2 separate regions of the Homo sapiens genome follow, and region 1 is linked to region 2. The links come from fine-mapping of genetic effects on gene expression. Tissue or cell type: cerebellar hemisphere. Region 2 holds a variant in brackets; the other region holds the start of a gene. All regions are shown on one strand. Distances are from middle to middle.

Region 1 (5,111 bases), 610 kb before region 2:
TAGCCGATAATGGAAACAGATAATCATTGTCTCCATTAGTTTGACAAAAATAACATTATCTTGGTAACAAAACAGCACAAAGATAGCACAGAAAGGAAAACTTCAGATCAAGCCCATAGATTATAAAAATTCTAAGTAAATGCTAGCAAATCCAAATTAACTCTTGCTCTATGATTAGAATTATTCTAAAAGATGCAACAATTGGTTAATTACAGGAAATTTATTCACCTAAATTACCACATGAATAATTCAAAATAAAAAATAGAATTTCATTACATGAAAAACATCAGTTGATAAAATTCGACATCTATTACTGATTTAAAAAACAAAGTTTAAGAAATGAAGAATATAGAGATTCTTCCTTAACAGTATCTGATACCAACAGCCAACTTCCTATATCTACTGAGTCACTAGGACTACTTTTCTAGAACAGTATTTTGCCAGGACAAGGAAAACAGGGTTTGGGAAATGCAGAGTTATACAATGTTAAATAGGTATCTTTACTACAAAACTATGAGTAAAAATATTGCCAAGCAAGAGATATACAAACCAGAAAGGTTTTAAAATAAGAAACGGATAATTATTAAATTTCTGGCTTAAATTGCAATATTCTTCAAAGGATTAAATTATATAATTCAAATTGGCCTTCTGTTTTTGGGGATTCAGATATCATATTATTTCTCATCAGTCATAATATTAAAGTCAGTGACCAGAAAATACAAATAAATTGTTTAATAATAAAATCTGCTATCATTTATCCTAAATTTATCTTTAAAAGATCCAAAGTGTTACATCTAGAATGCTAATGTCAAAGAGAAAAAATAATTATGTTAAAAACACTACTGAAAAACTTGAGATACTATAGCACATTTTAAGTTATCTAATATATGGAGGTGTTGACACAAAAATCACTGTAACTAAAATTCAAAAGTATAATGAAATATAAATATAGTCATCTCAGTTCACTTTGTGTTAGGGCAAAATAGGATCCAGCTTAAACTATTGGCACTGCATAGCTTTACTGAAGTGTCTTGATGGTTAATGCGCAAATTATTGCAAGTGTAGTATGTTCCAAGGAGGCTACAGTTCATCCCCTGTAAAAAGAGAGGGAAGGAAGCTCAATGACATGAACGGAAAGATCCTTGGGGCCTGCAGGCTCTCTCTCTTCATTTGCAACTGCAGAAGTAGAGCAAGAGTACACAGTTATTCAGAATTATTTGCATTTGGCAAATCCTTAATTGATCTCTGGCCACTTGAATAGATTCTTCCAGGAAAAGACATACGACAGTTTTCATCCAATACCCTGGGTTTGGAGCATAACTTATTCTGGAGGCCAAAGAAAAACAAGCCAAGCAGTTTCTCTTCCTTTGGTTCAAAAACATTGAATAATCAGTCCTCATTAGTTTCAAAATCAGCCCTCCAGATTTTAAATGGAGAGAGCAAGTGGCTTAGGAAGGTTGTAGTTAGATCCCGCAGATGTACTCAACCCCTCTGCTCTGCAACTGACTCGGACTCTGTCCAGCAATCAGTCCCCAAGGACTGCCACAGAGAAAGTCCTAAAGGCAACCACGCTCCTCCCTCTCTTCTCTTGGCCATCTCCTGTGAGGAAAACCTCTGTCCTGGCTTGACTTCTGGACACCAGGATGCCTCCCTTCAGACAAACTAAAAAATAGCCTCACGGCACTTGCTGCAGAGGAGTGTGTGTTGTTTAGAAACTAATTTCTCACCTAATACAAATTATCTGTGTCAGATTCAGATTTAATAAGTACTATTTTTGTGTTGAGTAATGTACGTACTTTTTCTAATCCTTAAAACAACCCAACAAACGTAATATTAGAATTCCATTTTTTAAATTAGATGGCCCAAAGCAATTAAGTGACTTGTCAAAAGCTAAACAATTTATAAGCATGAGACTCAAAATTTGAACTCAAATTTGAGTTTATCTGATTTCTTTAACCAATCTTCTCTCTTATTTCCATCAAACTAATGAGGGGATCATCACCTTTCACTGATATTTTTATGGATAAAACATAAATCGCACAGAAATTAAGGGTTAATCTCCCATAAGAATCTGATGTATTAGTCACAAAATATAAAATGAGAGAACCAAGTCTTACCTGGAGGAAGAGATCAAAGATAGCCAGTTCCTTTCAATGTGCTCAGCAAGAGGATGGACCACACACCACAGACTGAAAGAGGAAACTGAGGTAAACTCCACAGCAATTTTGAACAATTTTGCCAGGTGGGGAGAGTGTGGGTGGACACAAGCAGAGGAGATTAGGGAAAAGAAAAGATGAAGGGCATGGTCTCACCCCTGAGCGATCTCTTCTCTTTCCTCTTTCTTCCTGGCCTCTTTTTTCTGGCAGTCAGCAGAGAATTGGCCACGCTGGCAAGGCCACTGACGTGCATCTCAGCTCCCAGGGCACAGAAAGAGCTGAAGCTTTTGAGCCATTTCTTTGCAATTTGCTGCAAGTTTAAGGCCACACGTGATAAAGCTTTCTTTATGGGAGAGAGTGAATAAAAGAAAAGACCACTTGTGATCTTACTTGCTGATTCCCAGAAAACACAACTCCGCAGGGGGCAGAGGGTAAGGAACAGAAGCCAGAGGAGGGCGGAAGTTTATAACAGAGACCCCTCCTCCTTCCAGAAAGTTTTTAAGCCAACTATTCCTTAGGGACATCACTGGGATCCTTGTGTTTTCTTTGTTTGTGTGTTTTGGTTTTGGTTTGTTTTGTTTTGTCTTTAACGGTTCTTGGGCTAATTTGCTACATGGTTTTCTTTTCCATTGGTGTTCTAGAATCTTTAAGGACCAAGTATCAGGTCACAATCAAAGCTCTGCAGCGCTCTGTACAAAAAGAGTTAATTCTCAGAGACATGATCAGTTGCTCATATTTACAATTTCTATGAGTTTTGAAAACAGAAAAGAAACACGTTGAATTTTTGGCATTCAATTGTTTATTCTGCCTAATTCCAAGGATAAATAAATCCTTGCACTGAGAAAGTCCACAATTCTAATACATTCTTTTTCCAAGAGAAAAACTTTAGAGGATCTTAAGCAGTAGTAGTTTGCATTTATTTTCTACCAATAAATAAATTTGCTACCAGAATTATCCAAGATTCACCCTACTCTTAAGTGGCTGAGACTCTGGGATGGTCACTTAATTTTACTGAGTCTCAACTTCTTCCTTTGTAAAGCAGAATTTTTTTGTTTAAAAAAAAAAAAAACAGATTTATAGGGCTGTTTTAAGGATTAAATTATATAATGTATTCAAAAGCACATTGCAAATGAGCGGAAGGTATCATCATTTTATATATATATATATTTAGTTCACATAATGGTCAGAATAGTTAATATTATTCAAGCACATTTTACTACAAAAGAAAGAAAAGAAAATGCAAGAAAAATGGGTTTATATTAAACCTTGCAATGAAGCAATGGTGTTTTCACACTCTGAAAGGCCAAATATTTTACTTTAACAATCAAACCAGACTTTTCCATCGGAAATAGTGAGCAAACATCCGAATACATTGAGTGTTAGTCTAGACTTCTCAGTGTCTAACAGGTGGCCAGACCACTGTTTTATTCAAGAGGAGACAGTATTTACCAGCCCAAAGGGCATAATTTTCCTCACCAAGAAATGAAATTCTCCCTTGAGAATGTAATTTTGTCTATTCCCAACTGGCTCAGTCTCACTCTCCAACACGATTCCTTTTCTTATTTCCAGAGTCCACAGTTAATGTTACTGTTTTGAATGCACATAATGTTTACACTTATTCAGAGCTTCTTATGTGCAACCTTGCATTGGATTGTAGCCTACTTCAGCCTTTCATTCCCATTTCCAAACTCTAGATGAGGGAGTTAACAAACTTCTATAAAGGGACAAATAAGAAATATTTTAGGTTTTGTAGGACCATGCAATCTCTATCACAACCACTCACCTCTGCCATTCTGGTGGTAAATTAACCACAGACAACATATAAATGAATGCATTTCCTAAGACTGCACTAACAAAGTACTACAAGCTGAGTGACCTAAAACAGAACTTTATTGTCTCACACTTTTGGAGGCCAGAAGTCAAAAATCAAGGTGTCAGCAGAGCCATGCTCCCTCTGAGACCTGTAGGGAAGAATCCTCCTTACCTCTTCCACCTCCTGGTGTTTGCTGACAGCCTGAACTCCTTGTTTTATAGGTGTATCACTCCAACAGCTGCTTCTGTTACCACATGGCCATCTTCTCCCTTTATGTCTCTGTCCTCTGTACTTAAAAAAACGCTAGTCATCTTTGGCTGGGGACCACCCTCATGACCTCATCTTAACTTGATAAGGTCTGCTAAGACTCTCTTTTCAGGAAAGGTGACATTCACAGGTACCGGGGGTTAGGACTTCCTCATATCTTTTTGGGAGACACAATTCAAGCCAGTACACTCATATTTTCATTTTCCTCCTTACTTGAATTTTTTCATGCAATTATTTTAATCACTTCCTTCTGTATACCCTCAATTCTCCTGTTTCTCTTTCAATTTATTGATCTTCCCAGGCAAAGCTCACCTCAGATAAATCCACTTTCTTTCTTCTTAGTATTTGCATCCGCACTGTTTTAAGTGATTGAAGAACAACTCAGTAACATGCCCTTAGGGCTTATTTTATATTTATAACCACTAAACTCACTGAGTCATAGAGGCATTGCTAGACGTAATACTTTTTAATGACCCAATCACTTTACCTCTCTCAAATCTTCATTTCTGGCTGCACCCTGATTATTAGCTGATGATCTTGTCTAGGAAATTCACTAACTAAACAGAAATATCAGGAGAAATATTATACTCTGTCCTCATGACATCTACTCTCTACCCAAATGTACATTGCTATTAGCTGTCTTCCTTCTTGCTCCTACAGTCCATGTTTCTAAGCCCAAACTTTAGTCACATTCCTTGTATATATTTCCTCTCCTCCAGTTCATTTTTCACCAACTCTAATCAGGTTTTGCCTTTACCACTCCAATGCAAATATTTTCATCAAGAACATTAAAGGCATTCACACTAATAAATCCAGTGATCAATATCCAGACCTCATTTTAATTGATGTATTAGCAGAATTGTATGTCATTAATG
Region 2 (5,219 bases):
AAATGAATACACTCATGTTGCCACCACCACAATCAAGATTTAGAAAATTTCCATTATTTACATCAAACAACTAACTCCCAGGCAACCACTGACATGCTCTATGCTTATTAGGCAGTATAGCATAGTGGATAAAAATAAATCTATAGAGTCAGACTGCCTCAATTCAAACCCTAGTCCCACCACAGCTAGCTGTATGCCAGCCAAGACGTCATTTAACCTTTCTATGTCTCAATTTCCTTTTCTGTAAAATGGATATCATAATAATAGTAACTTCCTTTAAGGTTGTTAGGAGGATTAAATAAGTTAATGTACGTAGGTGCTTATAACTGTGCCTAGCACATACTAAGTGACATATAGGCTTTAGCTGTGTTCCTAGGGTAAAGACGTCCATTGCCCACACGAACTTTGCTTAGAGACCTATTGTTAGATGAAGGAGGCAATAATGATAGCATGGTTCATTATTTTCCCTGTACAGAATTTTAACAGAAAATTTATTTATGAAAGCAACTTCAATTGCTAAGCATATTATAATATTCAACTGAAGGTATGAGTTGCAATTCTACTTCCTTTACAAAGGCAAAAAAATGTATATTTATTGGAGAATCAGGGTTATTAAGAGCACCTGTTTATTCAGAAGAGCCAAAAAAAGTAGTTTGCATTGTTTAGCACATTCTGTAACAAGCAAGCAAACAAGAAAACTCTAACTTTTTTCCATTGTTCTAAGTAAATTAGGTACCTGTTAAGTGATAACAACAGTAATAGTATCTACTTCCAATTCTCACTCTTCATACTTATGAGCAAAAAAGTAAGCATCATTAATAAGACAGGATAGTCTTAAATGTCATTTTCATAATTAATGCCCTGGACAAGTAGATTAAATAATTCAAGGGGAAAATTATCTCAAGTCACTTCTTGTGAGTAGAAACTGTGCAATCAAAAGACATTTTTAAATCAAATGCATATTTAGAACAAATTCAAGTATAATGTGATTATTTTATAAAAAGTAAATTAAGAGACTGGTGGATTATTTTGCTTTTAACTAGTTTCTCTCTAACAACTATAGTACCAATTAGAATTAATTATATAAATTATGTCTAAATAAAGTACATAAATATCTTCTGACAGTTTTATATTCAACTTCCATGGTTCAGGAAAAGAATCTAAATTTATAATCAAGATAAACTAGGTACTGAATTAAACATCTTGATATAAGTAGGAGAAAATCTGTAATTAGCGTGACATACAAAGAACCAACAGCAACCGATTATTGCTTTAATTGAATATTTCAATCTGAAAGTTGTTTTTTTAAAGATCACTATCAATGGCAAACTTTTAAAATGTCAACATTTAAATTTATATTTAGAACATTGCTACATGTACAAAATAAGAAAATATGTGAAATAAAAATGGAAAGAAATAAATCACCAGATTTTTAAAGTAAACAATATTTAGACCCAGACCTCATAAAATTGACCATTTTACTTATAGTTTTACTTGGCATTACATAGATTGATAGCATCAATCTTAAAACATTGTGTTTTACCTTAACTACCCTCGCAGTAAGGCAATGGTCACTATAGAAGAGTATATATCAATGATCATCTTTATTCCAGAAATTACACTAAAGAAAATTAAAAAGACAAATTAACCAACCACAATGTATAGGCTTTATGTGGCCCTTTTTCAAATAAACAAACTGGAGAAAAATGAAAAATGTGAGTACTAACTGGACACTTGACAATACCGGCAAATTAATGTTATTTTTAAGGTGTGATAATAGAATAATGGGTTTCTTTATTTTTTACAAATTCATAAAGAAATACTTACCCAAAAAAAGCCAGTATGATATCAGGAACTCAACCTAATGGGAGCAAGAAGGAGGTAAGTAATTGACAATAAAAACAAAATAATCAGTCATGTCCTATTGACAACAGGGAAGTTCACAATTAGTGCGTAGTAGTTCACTATACAATTCTCTCCTTTTGTGTATGTTTGAGATTCTTCATAACACAATTGTTATTAAAAACGCACTCTTATTTCAAGAAAACAAAGAGAGAATAAAGATATATGAGGTTAAGTATGTGGGAATATTTGCCTCCTTCATAGAGAGCTCTTGAGTATTTAATTCATTCTATGTGAAATAAAACATGATCTATAGGTTAAGACTTCTTTATCTCAAAAGGTTACATTGAAAAAATTAAGATCATGGCAGGAATTTATTATATATCCTTTCTCTATCTTTCTGGTTTCTCCAAAAACTGTAATAATATCTATGGTCCTGCAATTTGCAATTTCATAAAGATATTGTTTAAAATAAAAGGCAGAGAAGAAAGAAAAAAATAGTAAACTCTCAGAAAGTATTAATATTATTCTATTACTGACTTGTAACCACAGTGGTGTTGGCTGTTGTTG[TTGC/C]TATTCTCCATTTTCTCATATCGGCACCAGTTGGTAATTTTTTCTTTAAAGTCTTATACACTGCTTATTAAAAAGTATTGCTTTCCACTGGATTGTGTCAAGTTAAACTAATGAAACTAAATGTCATGTGCTTTAGTGTGTAAACATCAATATCCTTAGAGTATAAAAATGTACCTTAAGAAGAATGCAAGGGATGACCTCTGAGAAGCTTGTTAGCTGTTCTGTGATGTTTGAGGTAATCATAACAGGAATACATGTGTTCCCAATCTCCTGATAATCATGCCGACAAGTTTCTAGACACTTGAAACTTTTAAGACTTTTAAGACTATTGCTTACTTTGTACCTCAAGAATTTGAGAAATTATTTTTCTTTTACCATGGGATCACAATTGCTATCTCAGATCCAGTCAGATTTTTGCATCTGAAATTTGTAAATTTTGCAAATTTTTTTTTGCAGATTTTGCAAAGAAACTGGTACACTCATTTCCCTTCAAACACTTTGATGTCATATGAGAGATAGTTGATTCTTGCCACGGTTTATCACAGTAAATTCAATCTGTGACTGTATTGACATAAAACACAAACATCCAGATGAAAAGTGAAAAATTCAATGAATCATTTGAATATTTCTATACAGGACTCAGGTAGTTGAAAATAATACAGTTCAATTACATATATTTTCAAATATGAAATCTGAACTCAATAAATAAAATTCTGATATTTTTGTTGTGATCTATGTGAAGACAGACAATAGCAATAAAATAACTGGAATACTGACCAACTTTTATACGAAAGGATTTAAATGGTTATGAATATCGTGCAGACAAAAACCACAGATCATTTTTAACAGATTACATTTTTCTACTGCTTTTATTTTTAAAAGAATTAGCTAAAAACTACTTCTTTTGAAAAATATTTTAAAACTAATATTTCTGTATAATATGTGAGGATGAGGATCTCTTATTTAATGATAATAAGCTCCTGAGTTGCCAAAGATTCTTAATGTTAAATGCAATAAAGAATACCGTTGCTGGACATTATTTAAAAGCCTCATATAATTGCTTTAGTCATGTTAATAGCAAATGCTTCCAGAGTGCTTTGCCAATAGAATTCAATAACCACAGAAGAGGCGACAGGGAATGTAAATTATAGTTTTTCGATTCTGGTCCTTGATAATATATTCTCTAAAAGTCAATACAGTTTTCTAATTTAGATGGTAGTAGTTTAGTTTCTAGTGATTAAATAACCATTTAGAAGAGGTTAGTTGAGGCAAAAAAGCAAAACTTCCCAAATCCCAAAACGCAAAGAAGTCTAGGAACCTTCATGGCTTCAGACGTTCATCATTAGATGTCACAATAACATGACATTCATTTTCTTAAGTGGTTTATTAGCCTCAACGATTTGTAATATTTACTATTTAATGGCAAGGGAGAATTGTCAACAATTAGCTCCTGGAGAGTGGCCAATTGACAACATTAAAATAATGTTCACCTCAGCAAACTTCCTAATGCTAGGTAAGTAACAAAAATGAGTAAGAAACTGACATTGTTGCTATGAGGTATTCGCTGGACACCATCAGAAGCAGGGTGGCCAGAAGGCTTTCTCTGAGTTACCTAAACACAGCTTCAAACTGCACAGGAAAACCGGCACCTGCTGAGAAAGCTCAGCCACATGCCTGTCTGAACTCAAGTAATAGAAAATGGTTTTCTCCTTTTGATCAAAGAAAACATACAGAGAGATAAAATGGTTGCATTTTATGAATTTACCATAAGGAATAATAAATGACAATTGCATCTGGAATCCAAATATCCAAAAATGACAGAATGCCCGGACAGGTGCATTTTTCTCATCCACATACACAGAGTATGCGTGTGTGTTATTTAGGGAGTCAGACAGATCTGAGTTTGAATTTTAGCTTTACCATTTGCAAACTGTTAGAAATTAATCTTTCTAGTCCCAGTTTTATAACTGGAAAATGAGAATAATAATTGTGTTGATCCATTGTTGTAAAAATTAAGATAATGTGTGTTAAAATAGTATCACTGTTCCTGAAAGTGCTCAGTAATTACTAGTGTTCACATTATTGTAGTCATTCATATGTAGAGTTTCCAGATTTAGAAAAAAAATAGAATTCCCAGTTAAATTTGAATCTCAGGTAAACAATGAATACATTTTTAGAATAAGTATGTCTCACGCAATATTTGAAACATACTTATTCTAAAAATTGAATTATTGTTTATCTGAAATTCAAATTTAAGTAAAGATCCTGCCTTTTATCTGGCAACCTTATTTACACATAAATGTGGTCAAGAAAATTCATTTATTTATCATTTAGCTAAGAATGTATTGATAAAAACTAAGATACCTAAGGCAGTCAAACAAAATGTACACATTAAAATTCATGGTCATTGCTAAAGGAAAGGCTCCCTATGCCTTCACTCAGTATCTACGAACCTTAACTTCAGATCTCAACAATTTATTTTCTAAGTAAGAGATGCTAGTTTTGGAGAATTGCGCTTACAAAAAATATAAAAGTATAGTTGCTGTGGGAAAATTCCAGGCTCCAAAAGGAGGATTAGCACAAACTAGTGGCTACAAGAAGTGCTCCCAGGCAAGCCTGTCTTTCCTGAGGCCCTGGGCTTTGTCTTCTGATTTTCTCCTGTCAGCTTGCAAACCCAGACGGAGCCATGGACTTTGGCATTCCTATTGTTATCTCTTGTGCTACCCCAATATCTGGCCACAGTCATGTCTCTGATTCTGTTTCAAATCTACAGACTGAGCGTTGGAACAGTGACCATGTTTTCT

What was found. PIP is the estimated chance that this variant, and not a neighbour inherited with it, causes the effect.
Region 1: SLCO1C1 starts here. The variant in region 2 is fine-mapped to the expression of SLCO1C1 in cerebellar hemisphere (GTEx, PIP 0.97).

The regions. Positions count from the first base shown.
Region 1 is chr12:20,692,814-20,697,924 of GRCh38, reverse strand. It overlaps SLCO1C1 (solute carrier organic anion transporter family member 1C1), which reads right to left and starts at 2,593. Exons shown (of 15, transcript NM_017435.5): 1 at 2,118-2,593.
Region 2 is chr12:20,077,806-20,083,024 of GRCh38, reverse strand. All of the region lies in intron 2 of LINC02398 (long intergenic non-protein coding RNA 2398), which reads right to left. Among named protein-coding and RNA genes, the nearest start is that of LINC02468, 47 kb to the left of the region's middle. The variant TTGC/C (reference allele first, on the strand shown) is at 2,413.